Linked DNA regions of Homo sapiens: region 2 is linked to region 1. The links come from fine-mapping of genetic effects on gene expression. Tissue or cell type: whole blood. Region 1 holds a variant in brackets; the other region holds the start of a gene. All regions are shown on one strand. Distances are from middle to middle.

Region 1 (8,099 bases):
AAACCCTGTCTCTACCAAAAATATAAAAAATTAGCCCAGTGTGGTGGCAGGCGCCTGTAATCCCAGCTACTCAGGAGGCTGAGGCAGGAGAATCTCTTGAACCCAGGAGGCGGAGGTTGCAGTGAGCTGAGATTGCACCATTGCACTCCAGCTTGGGTGACAGAGTGAGACCCCATCTCAAAAAAAAAAAAAAAAAATTGCCTCTAAGCTAATATAATTTGTTCTATGCCTTGAACTAAATAATTTGAATATTTAGTTACCTGTAAGCTTCCTTTTCCTGTCGTTGTCAAAACCAAATAGGACTTATATTTCTGTTCGAAACATTTACTTATGTTTTGTTTTCCAGAGTCAAAAAGCTGTTTTTCCTTTTAAGCTATTTTATAGCTACAACAATTAAGTAAAAAATGAAGATTACCTCTCTTTTTCTACCTGATATCTCCAGAATCTGAAAATGATTTAAAATCCCATTGGCTCCAATCTGATTTGATATCAAACACCCTCCCTCTAGGCCCAGGGACAATTGCAGAAGAGGTAAACGCATGAGATTGTAAGGGCTGGTTTCGAGGGATAAAATTTGTTCAGACCCTCTGAATCAAAGATGGTTCACAAATACCTAAATAGCTGATAGCTCAATACATAAAACTTAGAGATAAGTCAATTTTGTAACCTCACGTTTTGGATTTTGGTTTTTGCCTCTTATGTTGCACAAAAGGTTGTTTTTTGTTGTTGTTGTTGTTTGTTTTATTTTGATTTTTTTGAGATGGAATCTCGCTCTGTCGCCCAGACCGGAGTACAATGGTGCAATCTCAGCTCACTGCAACCTCCGCCTCCCAGGTTCAAGTGATTCTCCTGCCTCAGCCTCCCGAGTAGCTAGGGTTACAGGCATGTGCCACCATGCCTGGCTCATTTTGTATTTTTAGTGGAGACAGGGTTTCACTATGTTGATCAGGCTGGTCTCAAACTCCTGACCTCGTGATCCACCCGCCTCAGACTCCCAAAGTGCTAGGATTACAGGCATAAGCCACCGCACCTGGCTGCACAAAAGGTTTTTAAGGGTGAATGAGTGCCTGCCCATCTCCTTTCCTATCTGTCCTAAAACATTTAATTAGCTGTCTTTCAGTCTTTTGGCTCTAAGTCTCTTGGCCATAGGGATCCCACCAAGGGACAAGATGGACCCAGTGCAGGTAGCACACAGCCCCAGCAACGATATAGGACAAAATAAAAGTTTGGTCATCAATGCCATCTCTGGCAAATCTTGGCCAAAAGAAGGGAATATAAACTAAAAATAAAATCCTAAACTCCTCACTGACTGAACGGATCCCCTCTTGGCCAAGGGGACCTCAGAAAAAACTTAAAACTGAGTTCCCAGCCACGATGGGATAGGAGAGCCCACTCATGTCGTTATAACTCCTCCCTTTGGTGACTTAGAGACAAGGCACTAGCATTTGCGTTAAAATATGTAAGACTGAAAACATAGAAGACTGAAAAACAGACTCTTTATGGCGATAACATACCAAATTATAAATAAGACCTGTGGCTGGGCATGGTGACTCACATCTGTAATCCCAGCACTTTGAGAGTCCAAGGCGGGCAGATCACTTGAGGCTGAGAGTTCGAGACCAGCCTGGCCAACATGGTGAACCCCCATCTCTACAAAAAATACAAAAATTAGCTGGACATAGTGGCGCATGCCTGTAATCCCAGCTACTTGGGAGGCTGAGGCAGGAAAACCACTTGAACCCAGGAGGTGGAGGTTGCAGTGAGCCAAGATGGCACAACTGCACTCCAGTCTGGGTGACAAAGTGAGACTCTGATTCCAAAAATAAATAAATTAATTAATTAATAAGATTTAGGGCCATGCCAGGCACAAGTTAAGTCCTACACCTCTACAATTAAAGAATAAACTCTATTCTCACTGCCACGAGGTTGTTCCTTTTCTCTAGCAGCTAAGTAAGTACTGACCTCAAGATAAACAATGTTAAAACGATTTGCAGCTCATCCAGCTCCAGATGCTAACTGACCCCATTCACCCACCATAACTAGCTTTCTCTTCTTTTGAAACAGCGTCTCACTCTGTCCTCCAGGCTAGAGTGCAGTGGTGCAATCCTGGCTGAGTGCAGCTTCAACCTCCCAGCCTCAAGCAATCCTCCCACCTCAGCCTCCCAAGTAGCTGGGCCTACAGGTGTGCACCACTAGGTGTACCAGTAGGTCCACCCGGGAGGTGGAGTTTGCACCCAGCTACTTTTTGTATTTTTGGTAGAGATGGGGTTTTGCCATGTTGCCTAGGCTGATCTCAAATTCCTGGGCTTAAACAATCCTCCCATCGTGGCCTCCCAAAGTGCTGGGACTACAGGTGTGAGCCACTATGCCCAGCCAACTACAGCTTTCATTGAACAAGAGACTGATTTCAGCAACTTTCTCCAGGTAAGACCACTGACTATGGATTGGTTCCGGCTGGTTCAGAGAGGCTGCATACTTGTGTGCTTTTGTGTCCTGGAAAGACCTTTTTACTATAAGGCCTAATTTTATTTTATGTATGTATATATTTTTATTTATTTGAGACGGAGTCTCCCACTATTGCCCAGGCTGGAGTGCTGTGGTGCCATCTCGGCTCACTGCAACCTCCGCCTCCTGGGTTCAAGTGATTCTCCTGCCTCAGCCTCCCAAGTAGCTAAGACTACAGGTGTGCACCACGGTGCCCAGCTAGTTTTTTTTTTATTTTTAGTAGAGACTGGGTTTCACCGTATTGGCCAGACCTCAGCCTCCCAAAGTGCTGGGATTACAGGCGCGAGCCACTGCACCCAGCCTATAAGGCCTAATTTTAGTACATTTTGATGCTAAGTCTCCACCCCAAGGTGAACATGAGTTGTATGTTACATGCATGTTTGTTCAGTATGCATGTTGTCAGGACCTTCATGAATATTCATAGCTCCTCCTATAACCTGTTGAATGTGTATGTTTAGCCAACCTGTTCAGCATGGAGCTCCTGCCCCAACCCCTCCTCCTTCAGAGGCACATTTTCCAGCCTGTGGGATGGCCACCTTGCTGGCTGTAACCCTTTATGAGAAAGAAAGTCACCCAGGCGCAGTGGCTCACACCTGTAGTCCCAGCAATTTGGGAGGCCAAGGCGGGCAGATCACTTAAACTCAGGAGTTCAAGACCAGCCTGGCCAACATGGCAAAACCCCATTTCTACAAAAAGTACCTGGGCATGGTGAAAGGCACCTATAGTCCCAGCTACCTGGGAGGCTGAGGCAGGAGGGTTGCTTGAGCCCAGGAGGCAGCGGTCGCAGCGAGTCATGATTGCATCACTGTACTCCAGCCTGGGCAACAGAGTATTTATGGATATTGTGGGGTTCTTTTTTCAATTAACAGTACAAATTCAGGAGAATCTCAGACAAATTATTAAAATTAATAAGACAGGGCTGGGCGAGGTGGCTCACACCTGTAATCCTAGCACTTTGGGAGGCTGAGGCGGGTGGATCACGAGGTCAGGAGTTGGAGACCAGCCTGGCCAACATAGTGAAACCCTGTCTCTACTAAAAATACAAAGAATTAACCAGGCGTAGTGGTGGGTGCCTGTAATCCCAGCTACTGGGGAGGCTGAGGCAGGAGAATCGCTTGAGCCCGGGAGGCGGAGGTTGCAGTGAGCTGAGATTGCGCCACTGCACTCCAGCCTGGGCAACAGAGACAGACTGCGTCTCAAAGGAAAAAAAAAAGTCTTTTTGTTCCTGTCTAGCTGCCCCACCCATTGTCTTCATGTTCCTGGAATATGTGTATAAAAAACAATGGATAGCCAATCAATAGCTTGTTATTTTAATGTAAATTTTTGGTAAACAATTCAGGAACTCCCCTTCTTTTCCTTTAAAAATCCTCTAGTAACCGCTACTAACTGGAGTGGATGTTCAGGGCAACTTGCATGCTCCGGGTTGCAGCCCTCAAGCTTGGCCCAAATAAACTCTCTACTTACATTAATTTTTCCTCAGCTTCTTCCTTTTAGGTTGCAAACCAAAAATAAAATCCTGGCCAGCCATGTTGGCTCATGCCTGTAATCCCAACATTTTGGGAGGCCAAGGC[G/A]GGTGGATTGCTTGAGCCCAGGAGTTCAAGATCAGCCTGGGCAGCATGGTAAAACCCCTTTTTAAATAAAAATACAAAAAATTAGCCAGGCATGATGGTGTGTACCTGAAGTCCCAGTTACTTGGGAGGCTAAAGTGGGAGCAATGCTTGAGCCCGAGAGGTCAAGGCTGCAGTGAGCTGTGGTTGCACCACTGTACTCCAGCCTTGGCGACAGAGTGAGACCCTATCTCAAAAAAGTTTTAAGGGCCAGGCACGGTGGCTCACGCCTGTAATCTCAGTACTTTGGGAGGCCAAGGTGGGCAGGTCACCTGAGGTCAGGAGTTTGAGACCAGCCTGACCAATATGATGAAACCCTGTCTCTACTAAAAATACAAAAATTAGCTGGGTGTGGTGGCGGGCACCTGTAATCCCAGCTACTTGGGAGGCTGGGACAGGAGAATTGCTTGAACCCGGGAGGTGGAGGTTGCAATGAGCCGAGATCACACCATTGCACTCCAGCCTGGGAGACGAGTGAAACTCCGTCTCAAAAAAAAAAAAAAAAAAAAGCTTTAAAAAAATAAATAAATAAATAAAAATCCTAAGCCCCTGGTGGACTGAACAGACCCCTTCTTGGCTAAGGGGACCCCAGAGAAACCTGAAAAACAGCATTCCTGGCCATGACAAGAAGGGAGGCTGGACATGTCTCGTTCTCCCCTCTCCCTTTTGGAGTTTAGGCACCACTGGCCAGCATCATTAAAATAGAGGTCGTGAGACTGACAAAACAGACTTTTTTTTTTTTTTTGAGACAGAGTCTCTGTTGCCAGGCTGGAGTGCAGTGGCGTGATCTCAGCTCACTGCAACCTCTGCCTCCTGGGTTCAAGCGATTCTTCTGCCTCAGCCTCCCGAGTAGCTGGGACTACAGGCGTGCGCCACCATGCCCAGATAATTTTTGTATTTTTACTAGAGATGGGGTTTCAACATGTTGGCCAGGATGGTCTCGATCTCTTGACCTCGTGATCCACCTGCCTTGGCCTCCCAAAGTACTGGGATTACAGGCGTGAGCCCCCGCGCCCTGCCAAAACAGACTCTTTATGGCAACAAGATACCAAATTCCAACCAGACCCTTGTATAGCACCACATGACAGATAGCAGACCCTGAAGGAAAGGAAAATATTTTACCTCAAAATATATTTCTTTATTTTTTTGAGATGGAGTCTCGCTCTGTCGCCCAGGCTGGAGTGCAGTGCCACGATCTTGGCTCACTGCAATCTCCACCACCAGGTTCAAGCAGTTCCCCTGCCTCAGCCTCCTGAGTAGCTGGGATTACAGGCGCCCGCCACCACGCCCAGCTAATTTTTGTATTTTTAGTACAGACGGGGTTTCACCATATTGGTCAGGCTGATCTCGAACTCCTGACTTCAGGTGATCCACTGGCTTCGGCCTCCCAAAGTGCTGGGGTTACAGACATGAGCCACCGTGCCCAGCCCCCAAATACATTTCTTTGACATATTTTGGAATGGCCCTGCAAAGCCGTCTTCTGTGGGGGAAATTTGCATCTGTAAAGAATCTCTATTAGGAGCCTGGCCTTTCCTTTCTAGGCGTTTCCCGGATTTAGGAGAAATTAAATGAGAGTCTAATACAGGTGGGTCTGATCTTTTTTTTTTTTTTTTTTTTGAGACAGAGTCTCTGTCGCCCAGGCTGGAGTGCAGTGACGTGATCTCTGCTCACTGCAAACTCTGCCTCCTGGGTTCACGCCATTCTCCTGCCTCAGCCTCCCAAGTAGCTGGGACTGCAGGCGCCCACCACCATGCCCGGCTAATTTTTTGTATTTTTAGTAGAGACGGGGTTTCACTGTGTTAGCCAGGATGGTCTCGATCTCCTGACTTTGTGATCTGCCCGCCTCGGCCTCCCAAAGTGCTGGGATTGCAGGCGTGAGCCACCACGCCCGGCCAGGGGGGTCCTATCTTGTGGAATCCCTAGGCCACGTTGGAAGAAGAAGAATTATCTTGGGCCATGCATAAAATACACTAACACTAACAATAGCTGATGAGCTTAAAAAAAATCACAAAAAAATCTCATTATATTTTAAGAAAATTTGTGAATTTGTGTTGGGCCACATTCAAAGCTGTGCTGGGCCTCTTGTGACCCATGGACCACAGGTTGGACAAGCTTGGTCTAACACCTTTAGGGTCTGAGAAGAGACATTCACCCTCTATTATCTCTAAGGCTGCTACTTGGAGGCTTCATCTACATAATAAGAACCTCGGTGTCCATAATCCCCTTATCTTAACTCAAGCATTTTTTTTTTTTTTTTTTTTTTGAGATAGAGTTTCACTCTGTTGCTCAGGCTGGAGTGCAGTAGCGTGATTTCGGCTCACTGCAACCTCTGCCTCCCGGGTTCAAGCTATTGTCCTGCCTCAGCCTCCCAAGTAGCTGGGATCACAGGCGTGTGCCACCATGCCCAGCATATTTTTGTATTTTTAGTAGAGATGGGGTTTCACCATGTTGGCAAGGCTGGTCTCGAACTCCTGACCTCAGGTGATCGCCCACCTCCACCTCACAAAGTGCTGGGATTATAGACTTGAGCCACCACACCCAGCCAACTCAAGCATTTCTTTCTACTGACTTCAAGTCTTTAGACAAAGCTTAACTCTTTCAACCAGTTGTCAATCAGAAATTCTTTGAATCTGCTTATGATCTGTAAGCCCCCCTCAGCTTCAAGACCTCCCACCTCTTTAGGCTGAACCAATGTAAACTTCCATGTATTGATTTATAATTTTACCTATATATCCTGTCTCTCTAAAATGTATAAAACCAAACTGTAACCCAACCACCTCGACTGCACTTTCTCCAGACCTCTTGAGACTGTTTTCTGGACCATGGTCACTCATTGGCTCAGAATAAACTTCTTTAAATATTTCACAGCTTTTTTTTTTTCCATCAACAAGGTTGACACAAGGTTGCTTGATGGAAAATTAATCTACAGAGTCAACTACTGTTCTAAATGACAGCAAAAAGCAGAAAACAAGTGTTTAAAAGATACCATTTACAGGCCAGGCGTGGTGGCTCACGCCTGTAATCCCAGTACTTTGGGAGGCCAAGGCAGGCAGATCACCTGAGGTCGGCAGTTTGAGACCAGCCTGACCAACATGGTGAAACCCTGTTTCTACTAAATATAAAAAGTTAGCTGGGCATGGTGGTGCATGCCTGTAATCGCTGCTGGTTGGGAGGCTGAGGCAGGAGAATCGCTTCAACCCAGGAGGTGGAGGTTGCAGTGAGCCGAGATTGCACCATTGCACTCCAGCCTGGGCAACAAGAGTGAAATTCTGTCTCAAAAAAAAAAAAGATACCATTTACAATAATTTCAAAATATATCAAATACCTGGAAATGGGGATGGATGCCCCATTCTCCACGATGTGGTTATTCCACATTGCCTGCGTCAAAACATCTCATATACCCCATAAGTATATGTATCTACTATGTACCCCCACAAATGAAAAATTAAAAAATACCTAGGAATATTCAGGACTTCACAAATACTTTATTTTATTTTACTATTATTATTTTTTTGAGACAGAGTTTTGCTCTTGTTGCCCAGGCTGGAGTGCAATGGTGCGATCTCGGCTCACTGCAACCTCCGCCTCCCAGGTTCAAGTGATTCTCCTGCGTCAGCCGCCTGAGTAGCTGGGATTACAGGCATGTGCCACCATGCCCGGCTAATTTTGGATTTTTAGTAGAGACGGGGTTTCTCCACGTTGGTCAGGCTGGTCTCAAACTCCCAACCTCAGGTGATCCGCCCACCTCAGCCTCCCAAAGTGCTGGGATTACAGGCATGAGCCACCGTGCCCGGCTGGCACAAAAACTTTAAATGGAGAAATTTTATGAATGGAAACCTCACTATTTAAATTTAAAAAAGATACCAACTATAGACATCTGACTAAAGTATGCACTTGAATTAATAATAATGTATCAATATTGGTTCATTAATTGTCACAGACCACACGAAAGTAAGACATCAACAATAGAGAAAATTGGTATTGGGC
Region 2 (8,099 bases), 48 kb before region 1:
CTCCCACCCTTTTCTAAGAGAAGTTTAATGAACTTAGATCTGGGCATTTGCTTCCTCAAGTTAAATGCCTCACCTTCCCCTACCAAGGTGCAGTCTTCTGGAATATATTTTGTAAATGAAATATGAACCCACATTTGGGTTCATGGCTCAGGCTAGTAATTTAACCTAACTTTGCCTCCATTTTCACCTGTAAAGTAGACATAATCATCCCTACGTCATAGAACTGTTCCAGGATTCAGTAAAATGGTGTACATAAGGCTCTTGACACAGGGCCTGGCACATAGTAGGCACTAAATTATTGTATAATTAAAAACCTCTGCTCCTCCACCCTCCAGAGTTCTCTGTAGCCCAGCCTCTGCTTGGTGGAGACAGAAATTCATTTTCTTAAAAAGTTGTGCTGAGAGCTGGTCAGTCCTGGGGAAAGACACATGATAATGAAACTTTCAAGAAACTGATGTATAAACTTCAGTGCCATGATGTAACTGCTCTGCGCCTTAAGGCAGGATTCCCAACCCCTGGGCCTTGGACTGTTACTGGTCCGTGGCCTGTTAGGAACGGGGCCACACAGCAGGAGGTGAGTACTTGTGAGCCAGCATTCCCGCCTGCGCTCCGGCTCCTGTCAGATCAGCAGCTGCATCAGATTCTCACAGGAGCGCAAACCGTACTCTGAACTGCGCACGTGAGGGATCTAGGTTGTGAGCTCCTTATGAGAATCTAATGCCTGATGATCTGAGGCGGAACAGTTTCATGCCAAAACCATTATCTGCCCCCACTCATCCGTGGAAAAATTGTCTTCCATGAAACTGGTCCCTGTTGCCAAAAAGGCTGGGGACTGCTGCCTTAAGGGGCATTGTGGGTGAAGGAGGAGGAGGCAGCTGAGGCCCTGGCTCCTGTACTGGCTGGAGCCTGGCTCTGGGTCCTCCTTTAGATGTGAGCAGGTGGCTGCTTCACTGGTAGAGCTTGGGCTACACTGAGGTTTGCAGATGGAGGCTGGAGGGCAGGACAGAGGTGCAGAAGAGAACATTTATTCATTCAACAACTATGTATTGAGCACCCACTAGGTGCCAGATACTGTTGAAGGATGTTTAGGGATACCTCATGGACAAAGTGCTCTGCTCTCATGGAGCCGTGAGACAGCCCACAAGGAGGCTCAGGAAGTAAAACGTGAAGGTAGAGAGGTGAGTGATGGCCAAGGAGGCAAAGGCAGCAGCCTGCTCCTGATCACAGCCCCAACCTTTGCACATGCCCCCCTCCCTTACCAGAGCTGCGGGATCAGGTTCTATTTTTATCCTCCTGTGACAGGGGAGGAAACCTGGGTCGGGGAGATTAAGTGGCTTCACTTGGGAAATTCAGCAGTACCAGAGGTTAAAATTCCAAGAGCCTGAGCAGGAAGGGAGAGGATGATGGGCTGCTAGGGGCTGGAGGGGACTGCAGAGCCACCCCAAATCCCTTCTCAATGGCAGCCCTGCTGGCTTTCAGCTGTTTGCCACTGTGGCCCCTAAACTAGTCTTCAGAGATAGTAGCACAGGGGCTGAGATGCTCAAATGAGAGTTTCTGTCCTGTTCCCTTACAGATTCTGCTTCCTAGAGACTTCTCCAGCCTCGGGAAAGTTGGCTCCATGGAGCCATCCGGGCCACTCATGTGTGGGTGAGCAGCGGGAAGGGAAAGAAGGGGACCTTGGTGCTTCCATCAGAGCCAGTGCCCAGGGAGCGCCTGGGTTCCTGCCATACTCCTGGGGGTCACCTTAGGGCAGTGGGAGGCCCATAAGGGTTGGGGGCATTTGGTCAGCAGCCTCAGACACGCTGGCTGGTCAGGGCAGCCTGCTGTGTGCATGTACCTGGGTTCCTTGAGGTCAAGACCAGGCGGAAAGGCTTTTTGTTCTAGCCTTGGGAGGAGTGCAGTGGGGTCTGTGTAAGTGGTGAGGTGGCCATCCTGGTGGTCAGAGTGCTCAAGATACCCAAGGAGATGAGATGCAGACAGCAGGAATGGGTTGCAGCCTCCAAGGTGGCTAACACAGAAGCCTGTAGGTTGAGGAACTGCACCGGGGGTTTGGGGACACAACCAGGATGGTAGTTCTAAGGGAACTGCCTGCAGATCCTCACCTCTCATATTCCCCCTCCCCGACCTTCCTGCGCCTGAGGACTGCACTTTGTCCATTTTGCCAACTAGAAAGGCAAGGCTGGAACCTCGTCCTAGAGCCTTGCCCTGGAGTGTGAGAAGGTCCTGGGCTCCCAGCAGAAACAGAGGGACAGGATTGGGAAAGGTGTTGGCTTCCCCTGCAAACTCTTCCTAAGACCCCGGGGCTTTGGGTCTCAGCCGTCCTGCAAATTGGCTCTGTGACCTTGGGCAGGACCCTTTGCCTCACTGAGCCTGTTTCCTTACCTGTCAGCCTGGAACAGAACACCTGCCTTCTGGGTGAGCATGGGGATGAATTGTCTCTGTGCTGGCACTCACTTTGTGAATATTGCATAGATGTGTGCATTTCAGGCAGTGGAGCTGCTGCTCAACTTGGAACACACCTGGGGACCCCAGGGGCTTGGGGTGGGTGCAGCCCACACAAGGAAACTCGACCTTGCAGTTGGCAGGTTCAGCAGGCACCAAGGAACCTCGTTTTGTTTTTGACGTTTTTATTGGGGTCTAATGTACACAACGTGTAACCACCTTAAGTTACAGCTGGATTAAAATTGATTTATGTGGCCGGGTGCGTTGGCTCACGCTTGTAATCCCAGCACTTTGGGAGTCCGCGGTGGGCGGATCATCTCACGTCAGGAGTTTGAGAACAGCCCAGTCAACACGGTGAAACCCCATCTCTACTAAAAAATACAAAAATTAGCCGGGCGTGGTGGCGGGTGCCTGTAATCTCAGCTACTCGGGAGGCTGAGCCAGGAGAATGGCTTGAACCCGGGAGGCGGACGTTGCAGTGAGCCGAGATCGAGCCACTCACTACACTACAGCACTCCAGCCTGGGTGACAAGAGCGAAACTAACGTCTCAAAAAAAAAAAAAAAAAACAAAAACCAAAAAAACAACAAAACCCCCCCCCCCACAACTTGATTTATGTGTAAACCCGAGTCGTCATCACCCAAAACAAGATGCAAAACGTGTCCACGGGCTGAACCTTTCAAGATACAGAAAAAGGGCCAGGGGTGGCCCTCTCCCGGAATCTCAGGCTGGGAACCTGGTATCTAGTTCCCGCCCCTCACTGGGCAGATGGGGAAACCGGGGCTTGGGGCGAGAAGGTCCCCAGGCAGAGCTGGGAGCACCCCTAACTCTTCGCCAGCTCTGGGGACTTGGCGCCCTCTCCAGCAACAGCGAACTTGGGCGCCCGCGCCCCAGCAAGTCGGGTGGGGGAGATGGTGACACGGAGGGCGCGGCAGAGCGCGGCTCCTCCCCGGGCGGGGCCGACCTGCCCGCGCGCACCGACGCCCCGCCCCCCGCCCCGCGCGCGCGCTCCCGCCAGGCTAATTAGGCGCGCGGTTTGTTTACAAACACGGGCTCCCGGCAGGTGCGCGCCGCCCCGCCCGTGCGCGGCCGGGGTTCGAGGGTGGCTCCCGCGGGCCTCGGGGTGCCCGGACGGGGGCTGCGGTGCTGGCTGCGTGCCCGCTTCTTCCATGCCGTCCTGGGGCACCGGAAAATCCGCCGCCAGGCGCTGTCCCCGACACGGGGTGAGGAGAGCCGTGCGGGCCCGGGCGGGGAACGGCCCACGGGGTCCCAGCGTTGTTGCCCTGCCGGGCGGGCGCCGAGCCCCGCCCCCGCGCGCCCCCCGGGCCAGGCCCGCTCTCGGCCGGGTCGGCGGGGCGGGCGGGGGCCCCCGGGGCGGGGCGCGGCGCCGGCGGGGCCGGGACATGTAGTCCGCGCGCCCGCGGCCTCCCCTGGGCGGCCCCGGCGCGGGCCCGGCCGCGGACTACGACTCCCGCCAGGCGCCGCGGCGCAGCGCATGAGCCCTGCTCGGCTCCGGCGCGTCTATTATGCTGCCGGGGCCGGCGAGCCAAAGAGGAGCCGGCCGCGCGGGCCGGGAGGGGACGGCCGCCGGAGCCGCGAGGCCAAGTACGCCTTTCTCTTGCTTCCTTGCGCGCGCGGGGCGGCGGGCGGCGCGGGCGGCGGCGGGCCGGGCTGGGCCGGGGAGCGCGGCCCCGAGCGCCCCGCGCAGTCCGCCGGCGCGTCCGGGTGAACCGGGCGCCCGGGGCCGCCGCCGCCGCCGCCGCCTTTGTGCGCGGCCACGATGCAACAAAGCGCGGCGGCCGCCCGGGGTCGCGGCGGCGGTGGCGGCGGCGGTGGCGCGGGCTCCGCTCCCCTCCTCCCGCTCCCGCTTGGCCGCCTCCGTCCCGGACTCGGGGCGTCGCTGCGGCCGGGGCGCGCAGCCCGGAGTTGGCGCGGCCCGCGCGCCCCGCGCCAGCCCGGCCTCCGCGCGCCCTCCCTCACGGAAGGGATTTTTTTCCCCCTTTCCTCCGCCCGCCATCTTTCGAAGGGGGAACCCAGGGAGGACGCGGAGGGGGAAGGTGCGCGCGGCGGCCCCGGCCTGCGGCCGTGCGCTCCGCGGGGCCACTTTCCCCGCGCCTGTTCCGCCGGCCTCGCTCCCGAGCCGTTGCTGGGGCCCGCGCCTGGGGACCGTCGCCGCGCGCCGCGGCCGGGGCGGGGGGCAAGGCCGGGCTCGGCCCTGGGCTCTGCGCGGCCTCCTCCCAGAGTTACGGGCCCAGAGCTGACTTTGAGCCCCCCTGAGTTGCCGGATTATTGCACCCAAACCAGGGGGAGACCCAGTTCCCGTTTTGAAATCAGCCTGAAAATCGCTTAATCCGGGCGAGGGCGAGTTGGAGCGGGAGGGACGGGGGTGCTTCCCCTCCTTCCCACTTTTGGGGGGCGCCGGAGTGACAACGTGATACAAGCCCATCCGGGGAGAAATGCGCACCCCGAACCGTGTACACCCACATGGCCCTGGTGGGCTCTCTGTGAATAAAGCTGGGGCGTGCGGGAAGTCTTATTCCACCGGTTGCTCGTTCGGGGGCAGGGCCGGGATGGGGGCTTCGCGCGGCCTCCTTTCCCTGGAGGGCGAGAACTCGGCCCGCCGAGACCCACCGGGGGCAGGGACCCGGCGTCCATCGTGTGGGTTCCTCCGTTCGACCCAATCCTTGAGTGGTTGCGATCTTTAATTTTGGTTGAAAGCTTTCTGCTCAGAAATAGATACTGGGATTTCTCCCCCTTACATTAAACTTGGTCATTGTCTGCAAAAGTTAACCAGGAGGGGAGACTGTAGTGCATTGGTGGGCAGAGTAATTGGGCTGGAACTGCAAGAGGCAGCTTCGTGTGTCCCGTCCTCCCCCGCCCTACCCTGTGAGAAGGAACAGAAGAGGAAAAGAGTTTTCTTTTTACCCTGCTCTTTTGTAGGCTTTTCCCCTTACTCTTTTCTTTAAAATGGAGGGTTTTTTTTTTTTCCTGGGTCCATGTAGTATGCCTGGGGAGATCCTGGAATCTATGCAAAGTTGTATGGCATTTTTCTGGGGAAAGTAGTTTGTTACTGGCTTCCAACGGGGTCTAAGGAAGGTCTGAACCCCTGCAAGGGGCTGGCCTCGGGGGTTAGGGAGCCCTCCCTCCGGGTTCTTCCCTGGCAGCCCTGATGCAGCCTCTCATTTGCAAATAAAGGTCTGTGTTTGCCGTTTTCTCTGTTGAGGCCTTGATGGGTGCTGGTGGTTACTGATCATGAAAGATAAGGCACACGCTGTAACAGGACGGGCTGCAGGCGAGCGAGGGGCATTTCTTTCTGACCTTCCGGGTAGCCTCAGAGGCCCGGTGCCTCAGCAGGGCACCGGGTGCCTGGAAAGACTGTGGGAGCAGCTCCAGCCTGAGCCCTGCCGTTGGGACATCCGGGGAGGAGGGATTTCAAAAGCTTTCTCCGAGTGGGCAGTCACTCCATTTTTATTTTTGTTTTGTTTTTAGAAAGTAGAGTAATTACTTTCCTTTGACAACAGCTCGCGCCTGCTTCGGAAGTGAGTGAGCTTTGAATGAAGGACGGGACTTGCAAACAGTGCCTGCCCTACACTCCGAAGTAGTCATACCCAGAAAGTGAAAGTGGGGGTGTGCAGAGCGAAGCAGCCAGGCCTGCTGCAGCCGGTGCTACCTTCCTCTACCCTCTTCCTCCAGGCTCTGGAGATGCCAGCCGCGGGAGCCCTGTGCACCAGGCGGCAGTGATGGCCTTGTGCGATTCCTGGTGCCACCAGGAAGTGCCACCACTTTCCCTGAGGCATGGTGGCTCAGGGTTTCCCAAGTGGGGTGATTGGCACAAAACCAACAGCTATGCCCAGTTGTCGATGGGAAGAGCCATGTTTTGCTGTGGATACACACGGTACCGGGGCGGGGTATGGGGAACCGGGGCCTACTCTTCCCAGCGTTGCTGCCTGGGAGGTGGGGGCATGCCTGAAGTCGTGCTGCGGGTCTCTTGGTTTTCAAAGCAGTTAACGCAGTTGGTCAGAGGATCCTCCTCTTGCTTCCTTGACCGGTCATCAAAGTATAACTGACCTGACGGGGTTCCTGTCCTAGGCAGGTTCCTTTTTTTTTTTTTTTCTCTTCTCCTCTTGAGATGGAGTCTCGCATTGTTGCCCAGGCTGGAGTGCAGTGGCACGATCTCAGCCCACTGTAACCTCTACCTCCCGGGTTCTAGCAATTCTCCTGCTTCAGCCTCCCAAGTAGCTGGGATTACAGGCGTCCGCCACCACGCCCAGCTAATTTTTTGTATTTTTAGTAGAGACAGGGTTTCACTGTGTTGGACAGGCTGGTCTCGAACTCCTCACCTCGTGATCCACCTGCCTTGGCCTCCCAAAGTGCTGGGATTACAGGCATGAGCCACCGTGCCTAGCCAGCAGGTCCCTTATATCACGAAGCCAGTATCTGGTTGAAGCTAGAAGGTAACTGGATGAATCATGGTAGAATGCAAGGCTTCTTGCCGTAAAAGGTTTTGGAACTTGCGGGTCTGCCTTGGGCCTTCCCGACCCCTGTGGCTCCGCCCCCTTGTTGGAGCAGAAGAGATGCACAGGTAGCAAAGCATGATGGGGTGCCAGGTGCATTTGGGTCAGCGTTTGCCAAGAATGGCCTTGCTCCTGTGTTTTTGTTGGTACTGCCACCTTGTAGAGGTGCCCAGCTGGTGGCGGAGCATAGGGTTTTCTTTGCCTATTCTCCTTCCTGTGAAATCATGGGCACAGACATCATGGGCCCCTGTGCCCGGGCCTCCCTGCTCTGGTTCCTGGGCTCCTGCCATCTGAGAGGCTTGAGGGCTTGCTTATTTGTTTGTTTGTTTGTATTTTTAGTAGAGATGGCGTTTCACCATGTTGGCCAGGCTGGTCTCAAACTCTTGGCCGTGAGTGACCCACCCGTCTCTGCCTCCTGAAGTGCTGGGATTACAAGCGTGAGCCACCATGCTCGGCCAAGATGCTTGAGAGCTCATTTATTTATTTACTTATTTTGAGACAGAGTATCACTCTGTTGCCCAGGCTGGTGTGTAATGGCATGATTTCCCTTCACTGCAACCTCCACCTCCTGGGTTCAAGCAATTCTCCCTGGCTCAGCCTGCCAAGTAGCTGGGATTACAGGTGCCCGCCACCACGCCTGGCTATTTTTTTTAATTTTTTTTAATTTTTTAGTAAAGATGGGGTTTCGCCATGTTGGCCGGGCTGGTCTTGAACTCCTGACCTCAGGTGATCCACCCATCTCAGCCTCCCAAAGTGCTGAGATTACAGGTGTGAGCCACCATGCCTGACCGAGAGCTCTTTTAAAGAGAAAGTGTCACTTTGGGCCATTCACCTGTTGGTGGTTTAAATTGTAAGTCTTCTGGCCACTCCTGATTGAGCTCGCAGTGGAGCCAGGACCTGTGCGTGTGGCTGGAGGCTCGGACCCTGTTGTGTCCGTGCTGTTGGCTGTCTGCGTCTCGCACCAGTCTGTGGCTGTTCCCTGAGAGTCAGTTCGCAGGCTGCCTCCTCACAGGGCCTTCGGAGCCTGGTGTTGGGAAGATGGGGCGTGGAACATGCCCCCGCCCCCCTCCTTGCCGCAGGCCCCCAAGGTACTGAGTTCGTCAGAAGTTAATCCGGTATTGTGGGAGACAACTTTTCCAGCCAC

What was found. PIP is the estimated chance that this variant, and not a neighbour inherited with it, causes the effect.
Region 2: BRD3 starts here. The variant in region 1 is fine-mapped to the expression of BRD3 in whole blood (TOPMed, PIP above 0.99).

The regions. Positions count from the first base shown.
Region 1 is chr9:134,015,610-134,023,708 of GRCh38, reverse strand. No RefSeq gene overlaps it. Among named protein-coding and RNA genes, the nearest start is that of BRD3OS, 5.8 kb to the left of the region's middle. The variant G/A (reference allele first, on the strand shown) is at 4,077.
Region 2 is chr9:134,063,892-134,071,990 of GRCh38, reverse strand. BRD3 (bromodomain containing 3) reads left to right here and starts at 3,965. Exons shown (of 12, transcript NM_007371.4): 1 at 3,965-4,046. RefSeq lists silencers at 3,360-4,089, 4,270-4,519.